Linked DNA regions of Homo sapiens. The protein of the gene in region 3 purifies or fractionates together with the protein of the main gene of each other region. This does not show direct contact. Each region holds a gene or a part of one and is shown on either strand. Other genes may lie near its edges.

Region 1 (7,730 bases), on a different chromosome or scaffold from region 3:
TGCCCTTCTGACCTCCAGCTTTCTCTTCACAAGTTCTCCTCCCTAGAACCTTCTTGCTTAGCAAGTCCTATTTAGAACTGAAAAAGCAAAAAAACCTGAATACTTTCTATGTTATTAGTCATGTTTCCTAAACATAGTAAAGGTTTATTTTCACCTAAAGTAGAAATGAGTCTCTTGGCACTCAATGGACATTGTTGAAGGGTGGGTTGCATGTGTATTACAGAATAGGCATGTTTGCTGCACAAACCCGGTGTTAATAAAAGCAAAGCTTCAAAGACTAACATGCAATGGGCAAAAGGAATACAATTAAGCTGATTAACTTATGCAGTTTCTTATGCTTGTTAAAGTACTTAATTGAACCTCTGAATGCTGGCTAGATTATGATACTTACAGCTTAATGAGGTGATAACAAAGGAGGAGGAGGGCTCTCTTGTTTTCCACAGTATCCTGAGACTTCATCTAGTACTGAGGCTGCACACTATTGCTTTAACAAAGACTTGGATTTTTCCTTTAAGTATATGACACATTATAATGAGGGGATTTTTAAAAGCTGAAAGAAACTTTAAGAGACTGTGCAGCCTAATAATTTTTGGATTTTAACTGTGGAATAATTTAAAAATTTTATGCAGAAACTCAATAGTTAAAAAGTAGATCTAATCTAGTTTAAGAGAGGAGTATGAGCCTTGCTTACTTGGGAAAAAGGTATTTCCCCTAGGAAGCTCCCCAAAGCAGCTCCACAAAACCCTAAGAGAACAGTTATAAACCCATGGGTTTAGTCTGTTTCTCATATTACAGATAAGGAAATGGAGAAGACCAAGGCCTCCAAAGGTTGTTTCTTATCCTAAGTAAAGAGGTATTAGTAATGTTTATGAGTAAGTGCACTGAGTTAGTAGTTAACACTAGTAATGGTGGGTGACTTACACAGGATTGAACCCTTGGAAAATCTACATCAACAAGAGTTCTTAATCAGCAACTATTTCCCTACACTGCCATATTGGTGATCTACTTCATATCTATACTCAAAGACATCAACTACCTTTCCTAAATTCATGGCAGATAAATGACTTCAGATCTCTGTACTACACGTAATTAATGGAAGCCACACCTTTCTACACATGCCATTTCAATTATTATAAACTAACAGTGCCTCTGATTCTGTTCTTTACTCCAGGCCCTTGTATACAACTGGGTTGATTAGAATTCAACTGTCCTGGTTTGAGAACATTTCTGACTAAGAGAACTTAGGAAAACAGTCATGAGGACTTAAGCATCAAATATACAACACCACGTCCTTCCATGTGTCTGGATATCCAAAGGGCCCACTCCATTGAATACACCTTCTTTCTCACCTGGGAATTTGGCTGGAATGCAGCATGGGGTGTTGAGTGTTTCTGTAAATTTTCTAGCATTAGAGCCTGGTATAGAGAAGGGTAAAAGTCAGAAATGATGAGGAAAAAAAAGAAAAACAAACCCCCACCTCTACCACAACCTCTAAATTAAACGCAATGACTTAAATACACACAATTAAACTGTATTCCTTTTCCAGGGACCTGAAAACCCTTTACTAACACTGTTCTCATTCATCTTCAGAAGACCCATAAAGGTAGCCATGGTTACTGTTACTAAATGTACAGATATAAAATGCAGGCACACAGAATCAGTGACCTGGCTATGTCATAATATCAGTAATAGAACCAGTACTAAAATCCCTATTATCTTCTGCACTTTCGCCAAGTGCCCCTTCTAAATCTGATCATGCATGTAAAATTACTTAAAATACTCAAACCAGCCATGGGGCTCCTGGTTTTTGCCTGACGGAATTACTTGGTCAAAGGGTTACCCAGTACCAGGGTCAATTTGTATAATTTCCAGTACTGTGGCACCTAGATTTATCAAATTTATAAAATTTTCAAAGAGGAAGCTACAGAAGAAAATGACCACAGACCCTGTAAACTGTGGTCTAACCTAGTCTATCCACACAAACACACACACACAAACACACACACACAAAACTATCAGCTTCTGTATAAGCAACGGTCTGCCAACTCAACCCTGGAGCCAACCCAGACCTAATCTGCACTACCTGCCACGTATCCTGTTGAACTCTAATTAAAACCAAGACATCCTCATCTTCCCTTCTTTAAACCAAACCTATACACTTGAATCGAGCTACACCTACCTCATGACAATCCCACCTTAATCTACTCAAACCGATTCAAAATCCCCAATATATATCAACCTGCCTCGCCTCTCTCACCAATATTCACCAAACTCTTAACCACCCAAATTGCCACTAGATGCCACTAAATTAGAGACCTCTCTCTCATCAAGTCCCTTCAAATAAAGGTCTCTCTTCATCTCACCTCCTCATCTAATCGAGCAGACATTTTACCCTACCCCAGTCCTATTCGTGCAGATACCGATACCAACCCCATCCACCCCTTCGCGCAACTATACCCCTAACTCCGACCCAGCCCAACTCGCCCCCCTCAGGCCAGCAACGCCGTAGGTTGTAGTGGGATTTAACTCCTTCTGCAGCGCATGCGCCGAAACCACAGATACAAACAAGGAGGGGGTGGGGGAAGGAGGAAGGAGCTTAAGACACTCCTGGAGAGTAGTGCACACCCTCCCATTTGGGCTCGCGCTGCTGCCGTTAAGGCGGGAACCGGCGCGATCTCCATTCCAGCGCGAACCTCATCAACCACCGTGCGCGCGGATCCAGAGGCTCGCGCTGGCGGCCTGAGCGAGCTCGCGCCGAGCCCGGATACTGCGCCTGCGCCGCGGCAGAGGCTCGTCTCTACCGGGTCCGCTCTCCTCCGACACCCCAGCAACGCCGACTCCTCACCCCTTTGAGCCGCTTGACCAGGGCACTCTTCTGCCCGCTCTTGGCTAGGCCTCGCTGCTCCAGTGCGGCCTTCAGGTCGGTCACCCGCAGCGCCTGAAGAGGCTTCCCGTCCAGAGTCACCTCCTCCAGCTCCGCCATCTTGCGTGAGGTACTCGGGTCCGTCCCGACGGCTTCGGGCATCTTCGGTAATTTCCGCCAACGCCCTTCGAACGTACCGAGATGACCCCGCCCACTGCCATACTCTACCCCTCGATTACCACTCAGAACTCCCCGGGTTCCTCCGGATGTCCTCGGATGTTTCCGTCTCCACATCGTTACCAATCAATTCTTTCCATCCGCCCTGCAGCGCCCCTTTTCTCGCCCTGCTTTCAGGCTCGGTTTTCTTCGTCTTGCCGAAGCTTTGAATCGAATATATTCGGAAACCCTCGACCCTGGTATAACCATAATCGGAGATGTTCGTTTATTTCCGGACCTAGAGATGAGGCGCTGGGGCGCTTGGGTGTTTGGGGCGGGTCCGAGGCCGGAAGTGCGTGGGCTGCCGGGCTGGCCCAGCTTAGGGTTTTCAGGAAATTTGGAAGCTGCCGCAGTAGTTGGAGTCTAAGGACTCGTGACAATCTTCGGGTGCCCTTCGAGAGAAAAGGGGAGGTAAGCGGGGTAGAAGTACCTCTATGGGCCGGGTCAGACTCGGTGTTTGCGGATTACCTTAATAGGGCAAGCCCCCCACTCCTTAACGCAAACAGCTTCTGCCCTCTGTCCTCTGAATCATAGCCACTCCCATCTTAGGCTTTTTTTGGGGAGGGGCGGGGGGCTGGTGCGGAATCGGAATAACAAGCTCCGTGGGGGTGCGCAAGAAGCATCGCCGTGTCTTCGGACCCAGACTATGAACTGATCTATGACGCTGAACTTGAGTTTGAGTTTGCCTTGGAAGCCATGTGGCAAGATTCTGGGAAAGTTCTTCCTTGCTCCGCAGAAGAGAGTAAGTTCCCTTGGAGGAACTGCTTCCTGTAGGGCAAGAACTGGAAAATGCAAGCGCCCTGAACTTTTTTGGTACTTGAACTAATATTAATTGTTTAGGGGCTTCTTTCTTTGTCACTACCAATCCTCCAACTTGATGCAGAAGAAACACAAACAGTAAAATAGGTCACAGACAAATAGTTTAGAGATTTAAGAGATACGTTAGAGATTTAAGAGACTGAAAACTATTAAAGTCAAATTGGCTGATCTTTCCGTTGCATTCATGATGCAAAATCAGTGGCAAGGTGCCGGGCGCGGTGGCTTACGCCTATAATCCCAGCACTTTGGGAGGCCGAGGCGGGCGGATCACTTGAGGTCAGGAGTTGGAGACCAGTCTGGCCAATATGGTGAAACCCCGTCTCTACTAAAAATACAAACAAATTAGCCGGGCGTGGTGGCGTACGCCTATAGTCCCAGCTACTCGGGAGGCTGAGGCAGGAGAATCGCTTGAACCCAGGAAGCAGTGGTTGAGATCACGCCATTGCACTACAGCCTGGGTGACAGAGCAAGACTCCGTCTCAAAAAAAAAAAAAAAAAAAAAAAAAATTGCAAGGCACCAATAGATACCATACTAAAAAAAAAAAAAAATTTTTTTTTTGTCACTCCACTCTGGGTCCCTCCACTCTGACGCAGGCTGGAGTGCAGTGGCGCGATCAGGGCTCACTGCAGCCTCAACCTCCCGGGCTCAGGTGATGCTCCTACCTCAGTCTCCTACGTAGCTAGGACTACAGGTAGGCACCTCTACGCTCAACTAATTTTTTTATTTTTTGTAGGGATGAGGTTTTGCCATGTTGCCCAGGCTGGTCTCGAACACCTGGGCTCAAGCGATCCTCTTGCCTCGGCCTCTCAAAGTGCTGAGATTACTTTGGAAGTGCAAGAACCACCGCGTCTGGCCCATACTAAATATTAAGGACAATTGTTTAAAGACATGGATTGTCATAAAATAGTATAACACTTGTTAGATCTCTAAGCCAACAAACCAACTGGACTCTTTTTTAAGAACGTCTCAAACACCCGGGCTTCTGGTTCTTTCATGCGTTACCTTATTTTGAGCAAGGTCCTTACTCTGCTTTTTAACTTTTCCTGGTGCTTTACAGGAAATGTAAGGAGGTAACGGATGTTATGGAGTTGTTGGCATATTTCAGAGGCTTATATGCACATTGAAGGCTCTTTCATCATAAATAATGTTTTTTCTTTCTTCCCCCACTGTTGATAGCTGCAAAACAATTAGCATCAGCCTTGACCAGCTGCACGTACTAGATTTTAAAATGTGTGCATTTTCATTTTGGAGAAGATGTAATGGACCAACATTAATCATTGTTTTTTTCTTTACCCAACCTGGCACATAGAAGTAAGAGGAAGAGAATGAACAAGAAATATATTGGTTATTTTTAGGTTCTTTATAAGAAAGATGGAGGAAGACAGTGGGTGGGGAAGAATGGGTTTGAAAAAGGCAGGCAAATAGGAAATGAAGTTATTTTTGGTGATTTTTCTAAGGTAGTTGGATAATAATCTAAATAAAGGACTCTTATTATTTTGGGTCTTTGAATTCATAAAAAGTAATTTTCTCTGTAGATGCTAATTGAGTGTGGTAAGATGTCTTGTTGCTTGAAAGTTGTATTTTCGTTGCTCTACCTGGAGAGCATATAACAGTGCTTTTATGTTTCAGGATGCCACTGGAGTCATCCTCTTCAATGCCACTATCCTTCCCATCTCTCTTACCCTCAGTACCACACAATACTAACCCTTCCCCTCCTCTGATGTCTTACATCACCTCCCAGGAGATGAAGTGTATTCTTCACTGGTTTGCCAATTGGTCAGGTCCCCAGCGTGAACGTTTCCTAGAGGACCTGGTAGCTAAGGCAGTGCCAGAAAAATTACAACCACTGCTGGATAGTCTGGAGCAGCTTAGTGTGTCTGGGGCAGACCGACCACCTTCTATCTTTGAGTGCCAGCTACATCTTTGGGATCAGTGGTTTCGAGGCTGGGCTGAGCAGGAGCGCAATGAATTTGTCAGACAGCTGGAGTTCAGTGAGCCAGACTTCGTGGCAAAGTTTTACCAAGCAGTGGCTGCTACAGCTGGTAAGGACTGATAGGCATTCAGACCAAAGAAGATAACCATAGCTGATGGAGCCATGACTCTCTACAATGATAACTCAATTCAAATGTGTCGCCTAAAGCTCTGGAACTGGTATTCCAACCAGCTGACCGAACTCACTGACCAGTACAGGCATGGTTATTTCAACATTAATAGCATGTCAACTGGACTCCTATTTGTAAATGTTATCAATCTAAGCAATCCAGCTCATCAGTCTACTAGTTTGCTTCTTTCCGAGAGATGTCAAGTCCTCAAGAATTTGATGGCTTCTTCTGCAGCTATAACCACAAGGAACCTACACATTGTAACTCAAGTCCACTGCTGGCTCATGAAATGTGTAAAGTAGAACCCTCCTTCCCGAGAAATAAGACAGGACAATAAAAGGTGGCGTTTTTGTACTTTACCTGGATTCCATTGGCTGGTTTTACCACTCCTATCAGATTGTAGTGTAATTGTGTGATACGCAAACCATTAGTTTTCCCAGTGATGATTTAATAAAATTATGAAAAATCAGGAGAGGGAGATAATTAGTTGCTTCCTCCTTCACACTGTTTGAATCGAACTCGCGGTGACTTTTTTTTTTTTTTAAAAACATGGGTTGTCACTTAAGTTTGGAGTGCAGTGGCATGATCATCAGTGAGCGTGAGATCACTGTAACCTCAAATTCTAGGCTGAAGTAATCTTTCTGCCTCAGTCTCCTGAGTATCTAGGACTACAGGCCCGCACAACAATATCTGGCTAATTTTTAAATTATTCTGTAGATACAGGGGTCATGCTACGTTTTCTAGTCTGGTCTTGAACTGCTGGCCTCAAGCGATCCATTCTCACCTTGGCCTCCCAAAGTGCTGGGATTACAGGCATGAACCATCATACCTGGCCTTTTTCTAAGGCATATGTATGTGATATTCTTGGAACTGGTAGCAGGTGTTCCTATTCTGTAAGTTTGCTTTACAACAATACGAAAATAAGTGACAATTTACAGGTTGAACAATTTATTTTTGTACCAAAATAAAGAATGGATCTTTAGAACTGTAAAACTTCACCCTTTTTTCATTGCCAGGCTATATAATATTGACAACCGGGGAAAGAGGCATTCCAAAGAAAGTAGAAATTAAGTATACACAATAGATTTTCCATCCAGTTGTCTCACAAGAAATTATTCTCTTCCTTACCCCCTGTCATGTTCTGGGCAACATCACACCTCCCTTATTCCTCTAACTGGGACCCTTGTGCTGTGGAGCTCTGGTGAATGGTAAGAGGCAGATGGTCTCACAGGAAGAGTGGCTCTTTTCTGGTAGGCTGTGGTTCCCATTACACCCACCAGGATTAGCAGCATTAGGCAGAGTCCCATGGACAGCCTTAGGTGGGTCATGGAGGGATTATGGTCTGAAGTAACCAGCAACCTAGGAACATAGAAGGTAATATTTGGCATGGAATAATGCCTAGCCTTAGTAGATAAAGCGGCATTACCTTTTTTTTTTTTTTTTTTTGGAGACAAGGTCTTGGTCTGTTGCCCAGGCTGGAGTGCAGTGGTGTGATCTTGGCTCACCGTAATCTCCGCCTCCCAGGCTCAAGCAATTCTCCTGCCTCAACCTTCCGAATAGCTGGGACTACAGGCGCACGCCGCACCACCACGTCTGGCTAAGGGGCTTTACCCTTAAAGATAGAGCTCATGAAGCCCCGCCTCATCCAAGCATTAAGCTAAACAGGAAATCATTAAGAGGGACTATCGAACCTTAAAGTAGAAATAAGATCAAGATCTAAGTCTTCTAG
Region 2 (7,964 bases), on a different chromosome or scaffold from region 3:
AGAATATAAGCTCTAAAAAACAGAAAGAATAAAACAGACATAAACATGTTTCCCAAACTGCCAATGCTACAAAATATTTCTGCAATTACCATAACACTAATTTTGTAGTTTCCAATACACTTAGCCTACAAACAAAATTAAAAGCATGTTGAACTGTGTTAAAGTTTCCAACTAAATTTTTAATGTCCTTAAATTTTAAAATGTCATTATTACTAGTTTTGCCAACTCAAAACTATCAGCAGCTAAAAAGACTTATAGGCATAGATCATCTCTAATTTGTTAAAAGACTTGGGAAAAATATCATTTCCCCTCTCCCCCTTCATACTCTCGTTTCCTTCATGGTAAAAACAGGTAGGCATAGGCCGGGCATGGTAGTTCACGCCTGTAATCCCAGCACTTTGGGAGGTCGAGGCAGGTGGATCACGAGGGCAGGAGGTGGAGACCATCCTGGCTAACACAGTGAAATCCTGTCTCTACTAAAAATACAAAAACTTAGCCGGGCGTGGTGGTGGGCGCCTGTAGTCCCAGCTACTCGGGAGGCTGAGGCAGGAGAATGACATGAACCTGGGAGGCAGAGCTTGCAGTGAGCCGAGATGGCGCCACTGCATTCCAGCCTGGGCGACAGTCTCAAAAAAACAAACAAAAAAAAAAAAACAAAAAAAAAAACAAACCATGTAGGCATAGACCAAACACAAAAATCACAGTGAGACCAGCATTCAAATTCAAACATAACCAGAATCTTGTTAACACACCAGTTAATGATTCTTAATTTTCATTCTCAGTTCCTCCCACATAAAAACACTGTAAACATGAATGATTTTCCAAATACTTGAACTTCAGCAAAACATTTTTTAAAAACTCACATAAATATTGAGTACAAAAAGCTGTAACATAGAAACATTTTCTGAAAGTCTTTCTAAAAGTCTCATCAATAGAACTTTACTATGTAGACTTTCAAATGGCTCATGAAAATAATTTCAGATTATGCTAGCAGTCAGTGTGCTTAATAAATAATAGGCACCAAATAATATCTGATTTTTTTTTTAAGACACAAAGTCTACTCTGTCCCTAAGCTGGAGTGCAGTGGTGCAATCATAGCTCACTGCTGTCTCTTACTCCTGGGCTCAAGCAATCCTCTCACCTCAGCCTCCAAAATAGCTGGAACTACAGGCGTGAGTCACTGCGCCTGACTCCTTATTACTATTATCCAGTCCAGTACCCTCATGATAAACCTGGGGCCCGGACAGGTGCTCCTGCCACCATAGGCTACTCACTGCCAACAGAATCAAGTTCAACCTCTGTGCTTGGCATTTAAGGCTCTATTGACTCTGGACCCAGGCTTGTTCTCCAGTACCTTCCCCAGAAAGACCCTACTACCCCATGTTTTCCCAACAGATTACCATTCGAGTACAAAGAACCAGCTAGTTCTTTGCTCCCGTTCTCCTCTCTAAAATCTCCCACCCTAGGCAGAGGTTGCAGTGAGTTCAGATCGCGCCATTGCACTCCAGCCTGGGCAACAAGAGCGAAACTCTAGCTCAAAAAAAAAAAAAAAAAAAAATCTCCCAACGTATGAATCTGCCCAGTGATTTTCTATCCATCTATCAATCTTAAATGCCACCTCCTCTATGAAGCCCTTCCTGATTCCCTTAGGTAATCCCATTCCCTCTAGACTTAGTCTATACTTAATCCTTTTACAGCACTTACCAGAGACTGCCTCATATCATAGTGAAGTATGCACACGTCTAACTCTTCCACTAGATTATCAGCTCCTTGATGATATGGGTTGATTCACAGTCATTTCTGTATCCTTCACATCCCCGGGAAAAGCAACCTACACACAGTAGGTGGTCAATAAATGTTTACTCTCTCACCAATAGTATGTTTCCATGTTGCTACTGTACATTTCCCTTCCATGTACCTCCGCAACAGAAAGCAGGCCTTTTCACTGAGTCATGCAATATTTAATGAGCCCATAAATGGGAAGCACTGTCCCAGGCCCTGTAGACTCAGAGATAATAAGACACACAGCCTGTAGGATTCAAGGAACTCAGAACCCACGTACAAGTAAGTGTTTTAAAAATACAAAATAATGCAATAAACACACAAAAAAGAGGTATGTGCAGGGCTTAGGGGAACACAAAGGTGTGTGCCGCACCTAGAGGTGGGCAAAAGTCAGGGTCACGAACACTCTTGTACAGTGTGTAACAAGAGCTGAACATTCACTGCCAGATCCTCATGGATGTTTCAGTAGTTAGAAAATCTAAAAATACTAATCATGAAATTGACCTATTGAAGGCATAGTCCGGCTGTGTTGTGGATGCAGACTTTAATTCAAAAGTCAAGGAATTCACTGCACCTGGAAAAGTAACTCTCTTTTCTCCGTCTGTCTCTTCTCGGTTGCGGTTTGGAAACAGAGACACTGAAGGAGCTGTCTTGAATAGTTAACACGGCCAGAACGTCAGTGCATGTAAAAAGAATTTTAAAGTGTGACTACATTTTTATTGAGAACTCCCTCTTTCCCCAGGTGGATCTGCAGGGCAGTCACCTTCATCCTGATCCATAACTGCACATTTACTGTTTGCATCTCCCGCCAGACGGTACGCCCCACGAGGCAGGCGCTGAGCTCAGGATCTCACTCCCCTCCGAGAGCCGGGCGGCCCCAGGCCTGGACCATAGTGTGTGCTCCACAAATGAATGAAAGGTCTCCTTTTTCACTTCCACTTATTTGCGGGATCCAGGCCTAGCGTCGCTCTTTTGCCCTTAGCTGCAGATCTGAAGTGGGGCTGCCCGACCCCAATTCCCGGACGCTTTTCACCCCAGCCCCGGAGACTCCAGCCCCGTTTAAATCCTGACACTCGGAAACTCTCTTCTAACACTTGCAAGGTACCCCTTTTACCTATAAAAGGCTCTCGGGCCGCGAGATCGCCGTCAGAGCAAAGCCAGGCTACTACCGCAGGTACCAAGACAGTGGCACCGCCCGCGCCTCCGGAACAGGAAACCGAGGGAATTAAAAAGCAAACCTGAGAAAGCTGGGCCAAGGGAGGGAAAACTCTTCAGCCCACCGCAGGGCCTTGTGCGCGGTGATTGGCGCGTCAACGAAAGCGATGGACGTCTAGACCAATCGTCAGCAAAAGACCCTTTGGAGCCCGCGCCCCCTCCCCCTACGTCCTCCAATCCGAAAACGCAACCGGGTGAGGGAGCGCTTCCGCCCGGAGAGAGCTGGCCGGGATGAGGCGCCGGCTTTCCCGGGTCTTCTCCAGCTGCCACCGCTTTACTGCAAAACTGACGGGCGCAAAAACATGAGTGACTCCGCGGGAGGGCGCGCTGGTCTCCGGCGTTACCCCAAGCTCCCAGTGTGGGTGGTGGAGGATCATCAGGAGGTGAGCGGACGGCAACAGGGCTCTGGGGCAGAATCAGCGGAAGCCCTGACGCTCAGAGGGCCAAGCAGAGGGCGCAACCTTAGCATCGGAGGCCAGAGAGTTAACCAGAGTTAAACTGCCCTATTCCGTTGCTGTGGAGAGGACCCCAAAACAGCTAACTAGGAAGAATGAGAACTGACATTTATGGGCGCTTCCTACGAGTCGGGGCAACTTATTTACCTCGGTTTGCCCCCAAATCCCAGAACCAAACAAAAGGTGGCATCGGGATTCGAAACCGGACAGTCTGGCTGCAGAGCCCTGTGTTCTTAACCTGCAGTTAACTCTGGCTTCCAAGTATCTCCTGGAATCGCCACCACAGCCCTGCTGTTTAGATGGGAGGCTTTATGCTTGGAACGTGGGCTCTGATCTGAAATGGGGACAGTAATCGTAGGACTCACAGGGCTCTTAGGAGTATTATTGTGTGCATACTGTGTTTAAAAATCTTTTTTTTTTCTTTTTTGAGACGGAGTCTCTCTCTGTTACCCAGACTGGAGTGCAGTGGCGCGATCTCGGCTCACTGCAACCTCCGCCTCCTGGGTTCGAGCGATTCTTCTGTCTCAGCCTCCTGAGTAGCTGGGATCACAGGCACGCATCACCGTACCCAGCTAATTTTTGTATTTTTAGTAGAGACGGGGCTTCGCCACGTTAGCCAGGATGGTCTGAAAGTCTGACCTCACGTGATCGGCCCCCGCCGGCCTCCCAAAGTGCTGGGATTGCAGGCGTGAGCTACTGCGCACGGCCCATATTGCGTAAAAAAAAAAAAAAATTTAACACGGTGCCCTGCATAGATAAACACTAAAAGGGGTTTCCATGTTTATGGCCGTGCTGATTTACAGTAGCCAAATTGGTGTCTTAATCTAGACTTTTCCAAGTCAACAAAGGAGGCCCATGGATCTAATAAATATGTTTTAAAGTAGCATCAGTAGGCTTGGGATGGGAGGCAGTTCTCTGGACGTTAAAAAAGAAGAGGGATTTACTGTTGGTGACAGCTAATAGGAGAGGAAGATAGGTTTCTCAGGACCTGGATATAGTGTCTATGACCTTGAGAGAATGAGAAAGCCTAGGTTAGACGGTGCTTTCAAATTAGGTATTAAACCTAGAATTAGAGAAGATGTAAGAGGAGAAATGGCCTTTATAGACCACCTAGCCCAACCCCACCATTCTAAGTGTACCAAAAAGACCCTAACCAGCCTGGACAGCAGAGCGAAATCCCATCTCTACAAAAATAGAAGTGAAAAAATTAGCTGGGCGTAGTGGTGCGTGCCTGTAATCCCAGCTACTCAGGAGACTGAGGTGGGAGGATCGTGTGAACCCAGGAGTCCAAGGCTGCAGTGAGCCATGATCACACCACTGCTTTCCAGGCTGGGCAACTGACAAGCCCCTATCCCTTTTTAAAGGAAAAAAAAGAATACTTTGAGACCTAGGGTACCTTGAACACCTAGTTAATGTTAGAACAGGCATTAAGCGGTAGTTTGTTCCTGAGCCCCAGTCCTGGTCTGTTTCCCCACATGACCTGTTGAGTTCAAGGGGGCAGCAGGAAGGCCGCTGGAGATGCAGGTTGGAAGTTCTGAGGACAAAGTAATGCTTGAGATTATCATCTGCACCATCTACAGTAAACAAATTTTATGTTTTTCCACTTTACAGCAACATAGTATGCTTTCAATTATGTGCATTATTTAGCATTGTTTTTCAGTCTGCAGTTGAGTGTGTGCTCATGGTTTCAGTGTTAATTCTTATTGTGTGCCTGTGTCTTTTACAGGTTCTACCCTTTATATACCGGGCCATAGGCTCAAAGCATCTTCCTGCCAGTAATGTAAGTTTTTTACATTTCGACTCACATCCAGACCTCCTTATTCCTGTGAATATGCCAGCAGACACCGTGTTTGATAAGGAAACACTCTTTGGGTAATATGTGATTTTATTTATGGTCTTTTGTGTTTGAAGTACAATTTGCAGTAGATAATAAGCAATTATAGGAAATAGACTTTGCTAAACTCATGGGTTTGGGGGTTTTTTGTTTGTCTTTTTGTCTTTTTCATTTTATTTAGAACAAGTGTTGACAACTTTCTTAAAGAGCCAGATTAGCAAATATTTTAGGTTTGCTGGCTATATGGTCTCTGTTGCAACTATTAATCTTTGCCTTTGTAGTGTGAAAGCAATCACAAGCACTGTGTAAACAAATGACAGTAGCTGTGTTCCAATAAAGCTTTATTTACAAGCTGGGCATGGTGGATGAGCCTGTAGTCCCAGCTACTCAGGAAGCTAAGGTGGGAAGATCACTTGAGGCCAGCAGTTCCAGGCTGTGATCAAAGCCTGTGGATAGCTGCTGCACTCCAGACTGGGCAACATAACCAGACCCCATCTCTTAAAAGAAACAAACCAAAAAAACTTTGTTTACAAAAACAGCCTAGCCAATGTTTAATCCTTTTAATATTTGCCTTTATAGAGACCATTGGATTCTCACGTCTATTTCTGCATTTAGTCCATTGCCATATGCTGTTTTGGTTGAAATATATGATGAAGATTCAGGCTTTCACAGGCATGTAATTGGAAAAGGAAAGAATATTTTGATAGCCTTTTTAGATAATTGTGAATATTCTTTGATAGTGCGCCAAAACTTGAAAAGTAGTAGTTTATTAAAGCTTATTTGAAATGTAGAATTCAGCAATTCAGTATCAAGTGTGAATAACCATAGTTTCTTGACCACTCCTTTCAAGATAAATGGTGTTCACCTCAAAGTTCAATCACAAGTGCTTTTCCTTGAGACAACTGTTATGCTTCAAACTATGTAGCAGGAGAGCTTTCTGTGCATTTCTCATTTTGCCACACATAATATTTAAAAATGTATACTCAGGATGGAAATTTAATAAAATCAAGATGTTCTCGAATGACACTTTTATATTTATTTATTTATTTATTTTGGCAGTGGTTGGTAATGAAGAATATAGTAACTACTAACAGTTTGGTGCTGCTGCCTTAATTAATGTTGGAACATCAACCCACCAGTGCCTTTGCACCATCTTTGCAAATGTCAGTAAATGAAAACAGGAAATAATGCCTTAGTATTTTCATGAAAATAGTTTTGTAATAGTGATGTCCCTGAAAAAGTCTCAGGAACCACTCTAGGGACCACACTTTGAGACCTGTGGTCTTAAAATGTTGTGGATAAAATTACACTTGGGAAAAAATAAAAATAAAAGTTTTAATGTTGTCTCTATGTTTCTTTTCCAGAGAATTAAGTATTGAAAATTGGATTATGCCTGCAGTTTATGCTGGCCATTTTTCACATGTAATATGGTTTCATCCCACATGGGCTCAGCAGATCAGAGAGGGCAGACACCACTTTTTAGTAGGCAAAGACACTTCTACCACAACAATCAGGTAATTTCCTCATATTTGTGAATATGGAAGTGATTGAATGTTTCTATCTTATTTTGGATTCCTATAATAACTTCATAAGTCTCTGCACACAAATAGGGTCAGATTAAGCCTCGACTTCTCCAAAGAGTTCTCAAAACACGAAGAACAAACTTTTAAGTCTCTTGATATTCTTCATGTACCATTTATATTTAGTTGCTGGTCAAATTAGATTTTGAATGTGATCATTATCCTCCGGAATTTGGGCTTCATTGGTGATTAACTCCTTAAGCCATTGAAGTATCTTATAGATTTATACATTCAGTAGTACATTTTACTGTTTCCTGTCAGTATAACTGTTGTCTGCTGAATTTGCCGCAGTGGCTCACGCCTGTAATCCCAGCACTTTGGGAGGCCGAGGTGGGCAGAAGACGAGGTCAAGAGATCGAGATCATCCTGGCTAACATGGTGAAACACCGTCTCTACTAAAAATACAAAAACAAATTAGCCGGGCGTGGTGGCAGGCGCCTGTAGTCCCAGCTACTCAGGAGGCTGAGGCAGGAGAATGGCGTGAACCCAGGAGACAGAGCTTGCAGTGAGCTGAGATCGTGCCACTGTACTCCAGCCTGGGCAACAGAGTGAGACTCTGTCTCAAAAACAAAACAAAAAACAAACAAACAAAAAAACAGTAATTAGCAGTGAAAGGGCAAAATTATCTCACTTTGATTTTTTTATAAATCCAACTGCTGAATAAGTAGATTTGGGGCTTTAATTTTCTTTATAATATAATTAGTTTCAGATAAGTACTTAATCTAAAGTAAATTACAGTATCCTCTGACTTGAGATAAATATGCAACTGTTTTTATTGTATAAGCTATTTAACAATGTTTTGTGTATCTTGTGATACTATAATACTTTCAGAAATATCAATATGTTCTTGACTTTAAAATTCTCTTGTGATGGGATAAATATTTTAAACAGTATAGCCATAACTTTCTAGAACCTTAAGGATAATGGAGTGAAATGGTAATACGTTGAAAATCAGATAGTCTTCCTCATTGAAAATGATACTTTATTTCTAATTTATTCTTAATGATACAATTAACTTTTGTAGTATATAATCTTGTCGTTTGCACAAATAGCTTTGTTGTGATATATGAAAATTGTATTTATTTCAGATATAATTCA
Region 3 (7,019 bases):
CTCGCTCTGTCGCCCAGGCTGGAGTGCAGTTGGCGCGATCTCGGCTCACTGCAAGCTCTGCCTCCCGGGTTCATGCCATTCTCCTGCCTCAGCCTCCCGAGTAGCTGGGACTACAGGCGCCCGCCACCATACCCGGCTAATTTTTTGTATTTTTTTTTTTTTTTAGTAGACACAGGGTTTCACCGTGTTAGCCAGGATGGTCTCGATCTCCTGACCTTGTGATCCGTCTGCCTCAGCCTCCCAAAGTGCTGGGATTACAGGGGTGAGCCACCGCGCCTTGCCGTTTTTTGTTTTTTGTTTGTTTGTTTGTTTTTTGAGACAGAGTCTGGCTCTGTCATCCAGGCTGGAGTGCAGTGGCACAATCTCAGCTCACTGCAACCTCCACCTCCTGGGTTCAAGCGATTCTCCTGCCTCAGCCTCCCGAGTAGCTGGGACTACAGGCATGCACCATGACACTGGCCAATTTTTGTATTTTTAGTAGAGACTGGGTTTTACCATGTTGGCCAGTCTGGTTCTCAAACTCCTGACCTCAGGTGATCCACCCACCTCGGCCTCCCAAAGTGCTGGGATTACACGCGTGAGCCACCATGCCCAGCCTTAATTTTTGTATTTTTAATAGAGACAGGTTTCACTATGTTGGCCAGGCTGGTCTCGAACTCCTGACCTCAAATGATCCGCCCTCCTTGGCCTCCCAAAGTGCTGGGATTACAGGCATGAGCCACCGTGCCTGGGCTGTTTTGTTTTGTTTTTATTTAGAGAAAATCCCGTTTGCTTACTTGCTTTTTTTTTTTTGCTAAATAAACAGAATTATTCTGTCTCCTAAAAAACACCTGAGACTGTAATTGTAAATAGATATATATGTTTAGATAAACCTATTGAATTATTGAGAGACAAGAATATCATGATATACAACCTTTTTATTGTTTTTGGATGAGACTGTTGTAGGCTCAATCTAAATCATTAATCTTACTCACTTTTTTTAATAACATGAATTCAGTAATACTATGTGGCTGATTTGACTATTAAGATTTTCTTCTGTTGAATTGATTGTATAAAAGAAACTTTTTATTGATAAAAGGTATATAGATGTTGAAAAATGTGATGTTAAAAATGCCTTTTCTTACCATTGTTTCTCATCCTGGTTTTTCTGATTGTATTTCCCCTGTTTCTTCCAGGAGGTTATCATCTTGTGAAAATTGGAGATCTATTCAATGGGAGATACCATGTGATCCGAAAGTTAGGCTGGGGACACTTTTCAACAGTATGGTTATCATGGGATATTCAGTAAGTTTTAGTGGTTCTGTAAAAGAATTAGTTAGATGATGTCTAAATGTGTTTGTCTGAGTTTCCACTGCTGATCCAGGCTTCAATCTATCTCTAGCCTGATTCATTTATCAGAATTTTGTTGTTGGCAATAGTCTCTGTATTCTTGGAGAAACCACTTTTCTTTCGTGAAGAATCAGTATTATATATCTCCCTTTCTACTATAGAGACAGGAGTGATTAAATTAATGCTGGTAAAGCTTTTGTCGTTTGATTTTTTTGTGATTTTTATCATTTTCTTTTCACCGAAGTATTTCTTCTGGCTGCCTATGGGAAAATATTACAGCTTTTAACCTTTTAGTTTTTGCCTATATACAGATATATACACAGAACACTTGGAATTTGGTAATATCTTTCCCCTTATTTATCCTCATTTTGCAGTTTTGCTTGTAACTCAGGGAGATATTCAAAAGAAGGATTTTAACTCAGAGAAAATGTTCAACAACTGAGATTATCTGAGAACAGATTTTTTATTCTTCCTATAAATGAAATCTGGCCAGTTAGTGTCATTAACAAGTATAAATGTTCCCATAGAAGTAGCTTGTTTGGGCTACAGGGAAACGTGAAATCAATATTTGTCCTTTTTAACCATCTTATAGCTAAATCTTAGCTTCCTAAAGTAAGGGTAGGCTATGTAGTCTTAATTGCCTGTGTTTGTTTCTTAGGGGGAAGAAATTTGTGGCAATGAAAGTAGTTAAAAGTGCTGAACATTACACTGAAACAGCACTAGATGAAATCCGGTTGCTGAAGTCAGTGAGTATTAGATTATATGTATGAATGTGAAGAATTATAAATAAATCAAGTTTCATTGAATAAAAACACACCAAGTGGAGGCTCTTTAGCATGGATAATTTTCTCTATAAAGTTCTAGTAACCTTAAAGAGGTAAAGGAAGACAACAATATTTACACATACCATGCATGTAGTAGGGAACTGGTGGCAAATGCTATGATGAGAATTCTTCTTACACGCATGAACCAAAAAAAAACCTTTCAAATGAATAAAAATATTCACTGAGCATGTTTTACAGGCCAGGTAGCTACTGTCATAATGTTTTTTTTTCCTACTATGGTTAAAAGGAAAGTTGTGTAAATAAATGTATAGCATCTTTTTTGTTGTTTTTCAAATATGTTATAGAATACATAATATAAAAATACTGTATTTACTGATTCCATTTATACCTGGAAACTGAGATAAATTCTATCAAAAATGTATTTTTAGTTCTGTTTTAAATTAGGAATATGCCAGTGTGGTAGAAGGAACTTAAATTCAGAATTAGAAAACCTGGGTTTAGGTCGCCTTTACCCCGGTATGTCCTCCATGTTACCATTTTTTTCTTTCTGAGTCTCAGATTTTTTATTCATAAAGTGAGAATGTTGCACCAGGAGATTTCTATGGCAGTAGTTTTCTTTTTTATTTTCAACTCCTGGCCTCAAGTGATCTGCCTTAGCCTCCAGAGTAGCTGGGGTTACAGGCACAAGCCACTGCATCTGGCTTAAGACAGTACTTTTCAGAATGTCCGTTTGTGACAAGATAAGGAGCCTTGTACCTACCCAAAAGTAAATCAACATACTGTTTTCTTCATTGAGAAAGTTTTTCCATGAAAAAAAAAATGTCCGCTGAAAAAAACAGTGTGGTTAGTGCTGTAGTTGATTTGCATCCTGCAAAATCTTCTTAGTTCCTCATAGCCTGGTAATCATCAGTTAATTTGGAGGCCACACTTTGATTGATATCAGGGAGCAAAATAGTTTAATTAGAAAAATAGTTCCTGTTGGTTGTATTTCCTCTTATGAATTGACTATTTAAGATTTTTCTCCATTAAAGCTATTGAAATTTTAGTATATTTTAAAAATAGATTTATGTGAGCTCTTTCTTGTAGTTAATTTGCTGTAAGTATTCTTCCCCTACCATCTGGTTTATTTCCATGCTTTACCTTGTGCTAAACACTGTCTCTTCCCCACTACAGGTTCGCAATTCAGACCCTAATGATCCAAATAGAGAAATGGTTGTTCAACTACTAGATGACTTTAAAATATCAGGAGTTAATGGAACACGTATCCTTTTAAAAACCTATTTGAGAATAAATCATCCCAATCCCAAAGAAAGGAACTAGATTTGTTGTGTAGATGGCCTTGGTGTCTTTTCTAAGGCAAACTATAATAAAATTACCTCTTTTATTGTACACTTCTGAACACACATCTGAATTTTGTCTAATTTTGTGTGGTGTGATTTTTCAGAATATTGCTTTAAGCTTCTTGTCCTCTTTTCAGGCAAATTAAAGCGAAATCAAAGGAAACTTTTAGAAAATGCGTTGTATCACTAAGTAAAGAGTCTATGATTTTTGTCAGTTAGCACAGAAACTTTAAGGGAAGTAATTTCTTATGAAAAATACTGAGTAGGCCGGGCACGGTGGCTCAAGCCTGTAATCCCAGCACTTTGGGAGGCCGAGGCAGGTGGATCACCTGAGGTCAGGAGTTCAAGACCCACCTGGCGAACATGGTGAAACTCTGTTTCTACCAAAATACAAAAATTAGCTGGGCATGGTGGCAGGCTCCTGTAATCCCAGCTACTGGAGAGGCTGAGGCTGGAGAATCACTTGAACTGGGGAGGCAGAGGTTGCAGTGAGCCGAGATTGAGCCCACTGCACTCCAGCGTGGGGGACAGAGCCAGACTCTGTCTAAAAAAAAAAAAAAAAGATACTGTCTAAAAGAAAGAGAAAAAGAGAGAAAGAAAAAGAAAGGAAGAAAGAAACTGGATGAACAATTTAAGGTATGATTGTATTTATTATACTAAGCCTCAACTTTGAAGAGGCTGTGAATGTAGTTTATGTTTAGAGTCTAAAAGGGTGTAATTGTTCACATTCTATTATAATGAAAAACTGACTTGTTTTATGTTTTTATCTGGATGTTTTAGAACTGTAGAATTGAAAGGAACCATAGCTGATTTTCTTCACAGGTATCAAAGTGACGTGCGGTGAGCTAATGGAAAGGTTATTGCAACAGCTGTGCTTATAAAGGTCAATCAGATTTTTCAGTAAAAGATGAAGTCGAATCTTACTTAGATTGGATAAATCTAAAATCACCTGTTTATAAGCTGTTTTTAAAATGTATAAAGACATTTCATACATTATTTTACTTTTCATGCATGTTTAGCTTCCTTTAATGCACATTCCTAATTGCTGTTGATCTTTTTGTATTTAAAGGAGACAGGACTACATATGACTAGTTTCATGTAGACTATGGGAAGAGATTTGAACAGAGAAGCAGGAAGGAAGGGATGGGAAAGGAGAGAGAACAGCTGATAATGTGGAAAGACTATTGTTCTAAAGTCAATTCTGAGTCATTTCTTAGAAAAATACAAATCACAGATTACCCAGATGTCTAAGGAAAACTGCTGCAACCATCTTAAAACAGTATCTTGTGCTTATTGTGGTCACTTTGTAGATGGCTCTCTCTCTCTCTCTCTCTCTCTCTCTCTCTGTGTGTGTGTGTGTGTGTGTGTGTGTGTGTGTGTGTGTTCAAAGAATTAAGAATTCTAAACCAAGTAATTTTTTAAAAACCTACACAGGGTGTCGTGATGGCCATATCTGTTTTTTCTATTATTTAATCTTGTAATGTTTGTCATTGTGCCAGATTTCTTTACTAATTTGCAAAAGTTCCAAGTAAAACTATAGAAATACTCTCAAATCTCCCCAGTAATGCTGAGTACCTTTATTTGACCCTAACTAAGCAAAGAAGGCTTTTTAACTATTGAAATATCTTAGTAGGTTTGAATTTCAAGTTCCAAGATATTTTTCTTTTTCTTTTTTGGAGTTCAATGGCATAATCTCGGCTCACTGTAACCTCTGCCTCCTGGGTTCAAGTGATTCTCCTGCCTCAGCCTCCCGAGTAGCTGGGATTACAGGTGGATGCCACCACACCCAGCTAATTTTGTATTTTTAGTAGAGATGGGGTTTCACCATGTTGGCCAGGCTGGTCTCAAACCCCTGACCTCAGGTGATCTGCCCGCCTCGGCCTCCCAAAGTGCTGGGATTACAGGTGTGAGCCACCGTGCCCGGCCCCCAAGATATTTTTCAAACATTGCTAGGTGGTTTCTCTGTAGCTTCTGTCCATTGATTCCCTATTTTATTCTTTTCTCCATTTGTTCTTAGCCATTTTTTCCTGTCTTTCTTCATCCTTATCTCCCAGCTGTCTTTGCTCCTGCATTATTTACTACTGTTAGAGATTGAAAGGATATAACTCAAAACACTATGTTAAGGGTTAGTAATGGCTCATGTCACTCTCCTGCCTCTACCCGTTTTCCCAACATAACATACCCACACAGAGCAGTACATCCACATTCGTGTGTATGTTTGTTCAGGCGTTTTTTTCTCTGGACCACTATCGTTTCTCATATTAAAATATAAAGGGCCCTAAACTAGAAAGTTAGTTCTTACAGAATTCCATATAAACTGGCTCACTCTACTTGCCTGGAGGGTGAGGGGAAAAGAATGATTAAGAAGGAGGACAGTTGGTTTCTCTATATAATGTTGACATTAGCCAGTCATTATTGTCTGCTTATATGACCTCCTATGTCTTTAGGATACTTTTTTTTTCATGCTGTATTCTGTCTGTTTTGCTAGCTCCTCTTATTCATAATGTGCCCTAAATGTGCTTACTCAATAACATAAGCCTTTTATTTTCAGCCTTTTGTTATTTTCTTTACACTGTCTCCCCATTAGATTTTTTTAAAAATATAACCTTGTGGGCCGGGTGCAGTGGCTCACACCTGTAATCTCAGCACTTTGGGAGGCCGAGGTGGGCGGATCACGAGGTCAGGAGACCGAGACCATCTTGGCTAACACGGTGAAACCTCATCTCTACTAAAAATACAAAAAAAAGCTGGGCGTGGTGGCAGGCGCCTGTAGTCCCAGCTACTCAGAAGGCTGAGGCAGGAGAATGGCGTGAACCTGGGAGGAGGAGATTGCAGTGAGCCAAGATAGCGCCAACTGCACTCCAGCCTGGGCGACAGAGCAAGACTCCGCCTCAAAAAAAAAAAAAATAACCTTGTGATTTCAATTACTAGTGCTTCTGATTGCTACTCATTAGCTTTCTTTCACTCAAATTATTTGGCTCTTCCTTTTTGCCACTTGATTATGATGTTCTGTCAAGTTTTTTTTTAAGCTACTATATGTTTGGTCATTTTAATATCACTGCTTACAAATTAAAACATTTTCAAATTGTAATACTTCTCTCAACAAATAAAAATTAAGCAGATGGAAGCTAGAAACATAAGAGAATAGCTTTACAATCCTATTTTATGTTTAGTCTTTTTAAGTAATCTGCATTTTAAATAATCTTGTTTTGATAATTTTTTTTATTTAATTGCTTTTTTATTTTTATTTATTTTGAGACAGAGTTTCGTTCTTGTTGGCCAGGCTGGAGTGCAATGGCGCAATCTCGGCTCACTGCAACCTCCGCCTCCCAGGTTCAAGCGATTCTCCTTCCTCACCCTCCCGAGTAGCTGAGATTACAGATGCACACCACCACGCCCAGCTAGTTTTTGTATTTTTAGCAGAGACGGGGTTTTGCCATGTTGGCGATCCACCTGCCACAGCCTCCCAAAGTGCTGGGATTGAAGGCATGAGCCACCATGCCCAGCCTATTTAATTGCTTGTTTAAAAAAATTTCCTGGCCAGGTGCAGTGGCTCACGCCTATA
Region 4 (7,784 bases), on a different chromosome or scaffold from region 3:
ACAAGAGCGAAACTCCATCTCAATAAATAAATAAACAAACAAATAAAGTATTTTAGCCTTTTTTTTTTTACCCTAAATGAGCAACAAAATTAAAAAAAATAAGCATGTGAACTTTAAGTTGAATATATAACTCAAAAGGAGAAACTAAACTCAAGTAATCATTTTGAAAGATAATTTTTACTCATGAAAATTACAGAATGATCATACTTATGAGTCTAAGTAGCTTTAAAAAAAAGAAGGAAAAAAAAAAAAGCCTAAGCAAGAAGAAGCTCCCACCCAGACTAACCTTCAACATTAAGGGGAAAAAAAAAAAAACAAAAAACGAAAAGCACTACTCAGAGTAAAACATCTTAGGGAGCTTTAAAAAAAAGAAAAAGCAAGTAACTATAAGGCTAAAAGTTGTTACCTTCTATCCAAGACATAAAATGTATGTTTAATTCTTCTTAAAAGGATAGCTACCAACAAAACTAAACTTGTCTGGAAAGTAGGTTGTTTTTTCTAAAGGCATCAGAGCAGCAGAAATACAAAATAAAGAGATGTATTTTTTCTTTTTTAATCTTAAATAACATGAATAACACTTTTTTTATTTTTATTTTGTTGAGACGGAGTCTGGCTCTGTTGCCCAGGCTGGAGAGCAGTGGCCTGATCTAGGCTCACTGAAACCTACACTTCCTGGGATTCAAGCGATTCTTCTGCCTCAGCCTCCCGAGTAGTTGGGACTACAAGCACGCCCCACCACAGCCGGTTAATTTTTATACTTTCAGTAGAGACGGGGTTTCACCATATTGGCCAGGCTGGTCTTGAACTCCTGACCTCATGATCCGCCCGCCTAGGCCCCCCAAAGTGTCGGGATTACAGGCGTGAACCACCGTGCCCAGCCACATGAAGAATACTTTAAACATACAGATATTTTTCTTTTTTCAACCTTTTCCCATATATGGTCAATTTCATTACATCCATCTTATTTCCCACCTTCACCACAAACCATTTCCATCTTTGTGCCCAAAACTTTATTGTAGGAGTTAAAAAAACCCCTATTCAAGAGACCTATATTCTTCTACAAAACCTTCAAGTGTGTTCAGTCATTTTCACTGAAAGAGATCAACAGGGAAGTAGCTTGACACTGTCCCCCAGAAGTTCCTTTACCATGCCTCCACACCTCCCAAACTACTCCCTATTTTCACCTCCGAAAAACACTCAAATTTTCCACTAATGCAATCTGACCTAATGAATCAAAGCCTGCCCATCTCTTCTTCTACCCCTTTCTTTCAAGCAGAAAGCTCTAACCTTCAATAAGAGAATAATAAAGCAGAAGCAAGGAGGAGGCAAAACATGATTCTTTCCCTTCCAGTAACTAGCCATACCCCATTCCCCCAAATAAGCACTCCACAACTCTACCCTTTAAAATGGTTATCAAACATGGCCGGGTCCAGTGGCGCACGCCTGTAATCCCAGCACTTTGGGAGGCCAAGGCGAGCGGATCACCTGAAGTCAGGAGTTCGAGACCAGCCTCGCCAACAAGGCGAAACCCCATCTCTACTAAAAATACAAAAATTAGCTGGGCGTGGTGGCGCGCGCCGGTAGTTCCAGCTACTCGGGAGGCTGAGGCAGGAGAATCGCTTGAACCCGGGAGGCGGAGGTTGCAGTGAGCCGAAATCCAGCCACTGCACTCCAGCCTGGGAGACACAGCGAGACATTGTTTCAAAAAAAAAAGGTTATAAAACAAAATGTTGATACATCTGTTACCTCTTTCAAGCCTCCCAATAACATTTCTACTAACACCACCCAAAATATTTTTAAAAGACAGGTCTCTCATTCTTTTCGGTCCCTCATACTACACCCCAATTATCTTCAGGTGTCCTCTCAATCTTACAAAAACATTTACAAAACTGTCCTCTCAATGGCACAAGAATACTTACAAATCTCTTATTCTTTCTACCGCTCCTTTTATTCCTCCAACACCACCTGTATCTAAAAATCCCTACATACTGTTAGGTATACTCCTCCACCAATTAATGCTGCATACCAGTGTAGCCCTTTCAACCTTCAACTAAACTTACAGAAACCTCTTTTTTCCAACCTCTATGTATCTAAAAGTCATCAGTTCCCCTAGCACTATCAAGCCCTCAATAATACTTTAAAATCCCTTAATATCCTTGCTATCACACTTATCACCTCCCCAATAATTTCTAAAACCCTTCAATGCCCACACATCCTTTTCATCTACTCCATAGTATTTTTCAAATCCTTCAATATTCTTGATCCCTCAGAACTTACCAATAATCGCTATACAGTTTCAATGTCCCTGCTATCCGCTTCTGCCCTCATATTTCGAAAATGCCCTCGATATTTTGCTTCTAGACCTTTCAGTCCCGGAATAATAATGTTTATCAAACCCTTGATATTCTGCTATTCCCTTCGACATCTCAATATTCACATTTTAAAAATCCCTCAAGAGCCCCGTTACCTCTCTCTCAGTTCTCAAACAGCAATGTTTTAAATTCCCTCACGGCCCCTGCTACCCCTTCCAGCACCCCGATATTTGCGTTTGAAAAGCCTTCGCTGTCCTTGCCTGCCCCCCCAGTCCCCATATTCACGGCGCCTCTCCGTCCCCAGCGCTCCTCTCCCACCCTCACCCCCACCACAATGGTGATAGTACTACAGGGAAGGCGTCGCCGGGACCTCCCGGCCGCGGCCCCTCAGCGCCGCCCCCCACGCCACCTCCCCTCCCCCACGCCCCCGCGAGCCCCCAACGCCCACGTTCGCCGGCCCCGGCCCAGCCCGGCTCACTCACATCGGCTCCAGTAACTTGGCCAGCCAGGACTTGAGGGCATCCACATCCTCTATGAGCATGGTGCAGGGAAGGCGGGCTCGGCCGCCGCTCTTCTTCAGGCCTGCCGTGGGTCTCCACTACGCCGCCCCCTCACGTTCCCTTCACAGCTCCCGGTGCCCCAGCCCACCGGGCATCTTAGGAGACTTCAACCTACTCCCCCGGCCGGGGCCTAACAGGAACTAACCCAAGAGCCCTCACTCAACCTAGCCCGAAGGCTGAGGTGGGCGGGAGACAGTGCCGAGTGGCAGGCCTGAGAACCAGTAAGAGAGAGGGGGCCCTGAGGGCAAGACCAATGAAAAGGCTCGCTCGCCCCGCCGGCAGGCGGTACCCAGTCAGGGAGGAGAGATATAGCAAGGTAGGTGGAGAGCTTAAGTGAACTCCTGGTGCAAGATGGTATCTTGGAAAAGGTGCTTTGCCTCTTAAAGGGGCAGCGGCGCCTTTTTTTGACCACGCCGCCGCCCGCCGCGGAATACCGGTGTCTGCTGCTGGGAGTGCCTGGGGGAACCCGGCGAGCCCCTCAGCCTGGTTCCTTCCTCTCGTTTTTCTTGGAAACACACACTCGTGTCCCGAAATGACTCAGCTGTAGTAAATCTGCAACACAACGTGCAATACGTTCACGTTCGACACATTGCACAGAATGCAAAATTTTACTTTTTTTCTTTACACACTCATGTTGATTGGCACTCACGTTTGTATTTTCTGCTGCTCTGCTTTAATTACGCAGAATGTTTCTGACAACCATGCCTTGGAATCCAGTAATCGTCATTTTTAAAACGTGGCGCACGGATGTAAAAGGCTGAGGCCATTTCAATTTTGCTAGTACTATTAATAAATGTTGCTTTATTTAGGAAGAAAAATGACTCCAATAGTTTGTTTTTAATTATCTTTTCATTGTATATCTAAAATTCAGTGGTTGGGGGACGGGAAGGGAGAATTTTAATCAGCAAAGAAGGATTACAAAAAAATTTTTAAGACAAATTAGAAACTACTGAAATAGTCAACTTACTTTCTAGTAGGTGAGAAATTCTTTCTGGAGTTTTGAAATCACTGATTTAGCACTGATGTTAAAATGTTTACCCAATAACATATACTGAGTCCCTGCAATTGCCAGCACTGAGTAAGGCACTAGGAGTCCAATGCTGAGCAAAACAGAGCTTCTCCTCTTAAGATGATGAACAGTTTATGGGGTTATGCATTGTAATAACATTTTGAAAAATACCTAATGAGCACGCACCTCATATAAAAGAAATGGATCAACCTCAAATAAACAGACATCCTATATATACATAGAACAGGTATAGGCAAACTTCTGCAAAGGATCAGATACTAAATATTTTGGTTTTGTGAGCCTTGAGGTATCTATGGCAACTACTCGTCATACAATGTCTTGGCTTAAAATTAACCAGGGACAATATGTAAATGGAATGATTGTGGCTGTATTACAAACATTTATTAAAATTATATAAAATTTTAAATTTATATAATTTTCACATACCATGAAATATTATCTTTTCATTTTTTTCTCCATTTAAAAATGTAGGCCAGGCTGGGCGCGGTGCCTCACACCTGTAATCCCAGCATTTTGGGAGGCCAAGGCGGGTGGATCACCTGAGGTCAGGAGTTCCAGACCAGCCTGACCAACATGGTGAAACCAGTCTCTACTAAAAATACAAAATTTGCCAGGCATGGTGGCACACGCCTGCAATCCCAGGTACTCGGGAGACTGAGGCAGGGGAATCGCTTGAACCCAGGAGGCAGAGGTTGCAGTGAGCCAAGATCGTGACAAGAGCCAAAGAAACTCCATCTCAAAAAAAAAAGGGGGGGCTTGGCACGGTGACTCATGCCTGTAATCCCAGCACTTTGGGAGGCCCAGACGGGTGGATCACCTGAGGTCAGGAGTTCCAGACAAGCTTGGCCAACATGGTGAAACCCCGTCTCTACTAAAGATACAAAAATTAACCGGGCATGGGACGGGCGTGGGCCAGGCGCAGTGGCTCATGCCTGTATTCCCAGGGCTTTGGGAGGCCGAGGTGGGCGGATCATGAGGTCAGGAGATCGAGACCAGCCTGGCCAACATGGTGAAACCTCGTCTCTACTAAAAATACAAAAATTAGCTGGGCGTGGTGGCGCGTGTTTGTAGTCCCAGCTACTCAGGAGACTGAGGCAGGAGAATCACTTGAGCCCAGGAGGCGGAGGCTACAGTGAGCCGAGATCATGCCACTGCACTCCAGCCTCAGCGACAGAGCAAGACTCTGTCTCAAAATAAAAAAAAAATTAGCTGGCTGTGGTGGCACACGCCTGTAATCCCAGCTACTCCAGACACTGAGGCAGGAGAATCGATTGAACTGGGGAGGTGGAGGTTGCAGTGAGCTGAGATGGTATCACTGCCCTCCAACCTGGGCAACAGAGCAAGACTCCGTCTCTAATTAATTAATTAATACAAATAAAAATGTAAAGGCCATTGTAACCTCACAGGTGTACAAAGAAGATGCCAGCAGGGTTTAGCTTGCTGGCCACAGTTTGTAAACCCCTTACATAAAGTAGTAAAAGCAGAGGTGCACTTAAAAATAATGTAATGAACCTCCCTCACTAACCCCCTCCTCATAACTTTGCAAATGAAAGAAAAGGTCCAGAGAGGCAAGTGGTTTACCCAGAATTACACCTCTATGGAGTAGAAGTAGCATCCAGAGGTTCTGACAGCAAGCCAAGAGCTTTCTCACTTGCAACTCTTGCCTCTTCTTTTCTCTCTCCTCTTCCTCCTCCTTTTTTAAAGTTTATCCACATTTTCCCTTCACTTCGAACAGCTACAGAAGTTAGCTGGGTGTGGTGGCACATGCCTGTAATCTCAGCTACTTGAGAGACTGAGGCACGAGAATTGCTTTAACCTGCGAAGCAGAGGTTGCAGTAAACTGAGATCAAGCCACTGCACTCCAGCCTGGGTGACAGAGTGAGACTCTGCCAAAAAACAACAACAAGAACAACAACAAAAACAACAACAACAAACAAACAAAAAAAAACCCTAGCTCCCACCTTGGATCTCTTGTTCAGGGGAAAGCTAGTCATCATGTTTCAAGACATTCTAGCAGCCCTGTGGAGAGGCCCACGTTGAGAGGAACTGAGACAACTGAGACCCCTTCCCAACCAAGGGAGAGTGGGTGTGGTTATAAAAGTACAACATGAGGGACACTTTTGGTGTTGGAACTGTTTTGATTTTTGACTGTGATGGTGGATACAGGAACTACAGGGTGGTAAACTGAATAGAACTAAACTTACCTATAAAGTCAAGTTGATGGCTGGGTAAAAAAAGAAAAATAGAACCAAACTTACATATGCACAGAAGGGACCTCAAAAAGTTCATGGAAAAGTGCAATTAAAAGAAAAATAAAAACCACAAACTTTATTTCTCAACATAAGCTTTATCAAGTTCCAGGCACATTGAGAACATACAAGTGATACCACACAAATGATACTGGGCATTTAGTTCATCCCTAAAGAACTGAGAGTCCTGGGAATTTAGCCATGTCAATGCAGTCTTTTTTACATTATGAACTGAAGAAAAATGGGACCCTTTACATATTTTTTAAACATTAGGAAACAAAAAGAAGGCAGAAGGAGCCAAATTAGGACTGCAGGGTAGCTGCCTAATGATTTCCCATCAAAACTTTTGCAAAATTGCCCTTGTTTGACCAGATTTTTTTTTTTTTTTTTTGAGACAGTCTTGCTCTGTCGCCCAGGTTGGAGTGCAGTGGTGCAACGTTGGCTCACTGCAAACTCCGCCTCCCAGGTTCACGCCATTCTCCTGCCTCAGCCTCCCAAGTAGCTGGGACTACAGGCACCCACCACCATGCCCAGCTAATTTTTTGTATTTTTAGTAGAGACGGGGTTTCACCATTTTAGCTGGGATGATCTCCATCTCCTGACCTCATGATCCACCCTCCTCGGCCTCCCAAAGTGCTGGGAATACAGCCGTGAGCCACCGCACCCGGCTATTAGATTAATGAGCAGGAGCATTGCCAAGATGGAGAAGGAATCTCTGGTGAAACTTTCACAGATGTTGTTCTGCTGAAGCTTCAGCTAATTTTCTCAAAACACTCTCATAATAAGCATATGTTATCGTTCTTTAGCCCTCGAGCAAAATGCCTTGAGCATCCCAAAAAAACTGTTGCCATGACCTCTGCTGCTGACCAGTCTGCTTTTGCTTTGACTAGCCCATTGCCATTTTCTTGGTAGCTATTGTTTTGATTGTGTTTTGTCTTCAGGATTGTACTCGTAAAGCCGTGTTTCATCTCCTGTTACAATTCTTTGAAGAAATGCTTCAGGATTGTGATCTCACTTCAAAATTTCCAATGAAAGCTACTCTTGTCTGCAGCTGATCTGGTTGCAGCAGTTTTGGCACCCATCAAGTGGAAAGTTTGCTCAACTTTAATTTTCAGTTAGAATTGTGTAAGTGGAACCAATTGAGATGTCTATGGTGTTGGCTGCTGTTTCTGCTGTTAATTGTTGGTCCTCTTCCATTAGGGCACAAACAAGATTAATTTTTTTTTGTTTTTGCAAACTGATGTGGATGATCTGCAGCTGTGGGCTTCATCTTTTACACTCTCTTATCCCTTCTTAAAACAAGTTATCCATTTGTAAACTGCTGATTTATTTGGGGGCATTGTCCCCATAAGGTTTTTGTAAAGCATGAATAATTTACCATTATTCCACCCAAGCTTCACAAAAAATTTGATGTTTGTTCTTTCTTCAATTTTAGCAGAATTCATGTTGCTCTAATAGAGGCCCTTTTCAAACTGATGTCTTATCCCTCTTAGGGCCTCAAACTAGATCCTGTTTAGAAATGTTGTAACAAGTTCGTATGAGTTTATTTTGTTAAAAACATTTGAAATCCATGCATAGTTTTTTCATAATACACATTTTCCATAAACTTTTTGAAGACTGTGTGTGTGTGTCT

What was found.
Region 1: the proteins of SRPK1 (region 3) and ACIN1 purify together in Homo sapiens (affinity purification with mass spectrometry; 3 studies listed by BioGRID and IntAct, with this or other methods). This does not show direct contact.
Region 2: the proteins of SRPK1 (region 3) and DROSHA purify together in Homo sapiens (affinity purification with mass spectrometry; 4 studies listed by BioGRID and IntAct, with this or other methods). This does not show direct contact.
Region 4: the proteins of SRPK1 (region 3) and RBM27 purify together in Homo sapiens (affinity purification with mass spectrometry; 3 studies listed by BioGRID and IntAct, with this or other methods). This does not show direct contact.

What each region holds. Positions count from the first base shown.
Region 1 is NC_000014.9:23,092,130-23,099,859, forward strand, and holds the start of ACIN1 (apoptotic chromatin condensation inducer in the nucleus), read right to left. Parts: upstream 2,984-7,730; coding exon 2,846-2,983; intron 2,656-2,845; exon of another isoform or gene 1,523-2,655; intron 1,416-1,522; coding exon 1,350-1,415; intron 1-1,349. Other genes in the region: uncharacterized protein C14orf119, read left to right, coding at 5,530-5,952; CIROP (ciliated left-right organizer metallopeptidase isoform 1 precursor), read right to left, coding at 7,153-7,360.
Region 2 is NC_000005.10:31,529,094-31,537,057, forward strand, and holds the start of DROSHA (ribonuclease 3), read right to left. Parts: upstream 3,001-7,964; 5' UTR 2,897-3,000; intron 2,433-2,896; 5' UTR 2,357-2,432; intron 1,832-2,356; 5' UTR 1,705-1,831; intron 13-1,704; 5' UTR 1-12. Other genes in the region: UPF0489 protein C5orf22, read left to right, coding at 3,300-3,380, 5,179-5,324, 5,866-5,958, 6,651-6,800. UniProt on the Homo sapiens protein: Ribonuclease III double-stranded (ds) RNA-specific endoribonuclease that is involved in the initial step of microRNA (miRNA) biogenesis.
Region 3 is NC_000006.12:35,883,080-35,890,098, reverse strand, and holds part of SRPK1 (SRSF protein kinase 1), read left to right. Parts: intron 1-1,175; coding exon 1,176-1,284; intron 1,285-1,987; coding exon 1,988-2,075; intron 2,076-3,287; coding exon 3,288-3,375; intron 3,376-7,019. UniProt on the Homo sapiens protein: Serine/arginine-rich protein-specific kinase which specifically phosphorylates its substrates at serine residues located in regions rich in arginine/serine dipeptides, known as RS domains and is involved in the phosphorylation of SR splicing factors and the regulation of splicing.
Region 4 is NC_000005.10:146,198,835-146,206,618, reverse strand, and holds the start of RBM27 (RNA-binding protein 27), read right to left. Parts: upstream 3,015-7,784; 5' UTR 2,854-3,014; coding exon 2,795-2,853; intron 1-2,794. Other genes in the region: RBM27-POU4F3, read right to left, coding at 2,795-2,853. UniProt on the Homo sapiens protein: May be involved in the turnover of nuclear polyadenylated (pA+) RNA.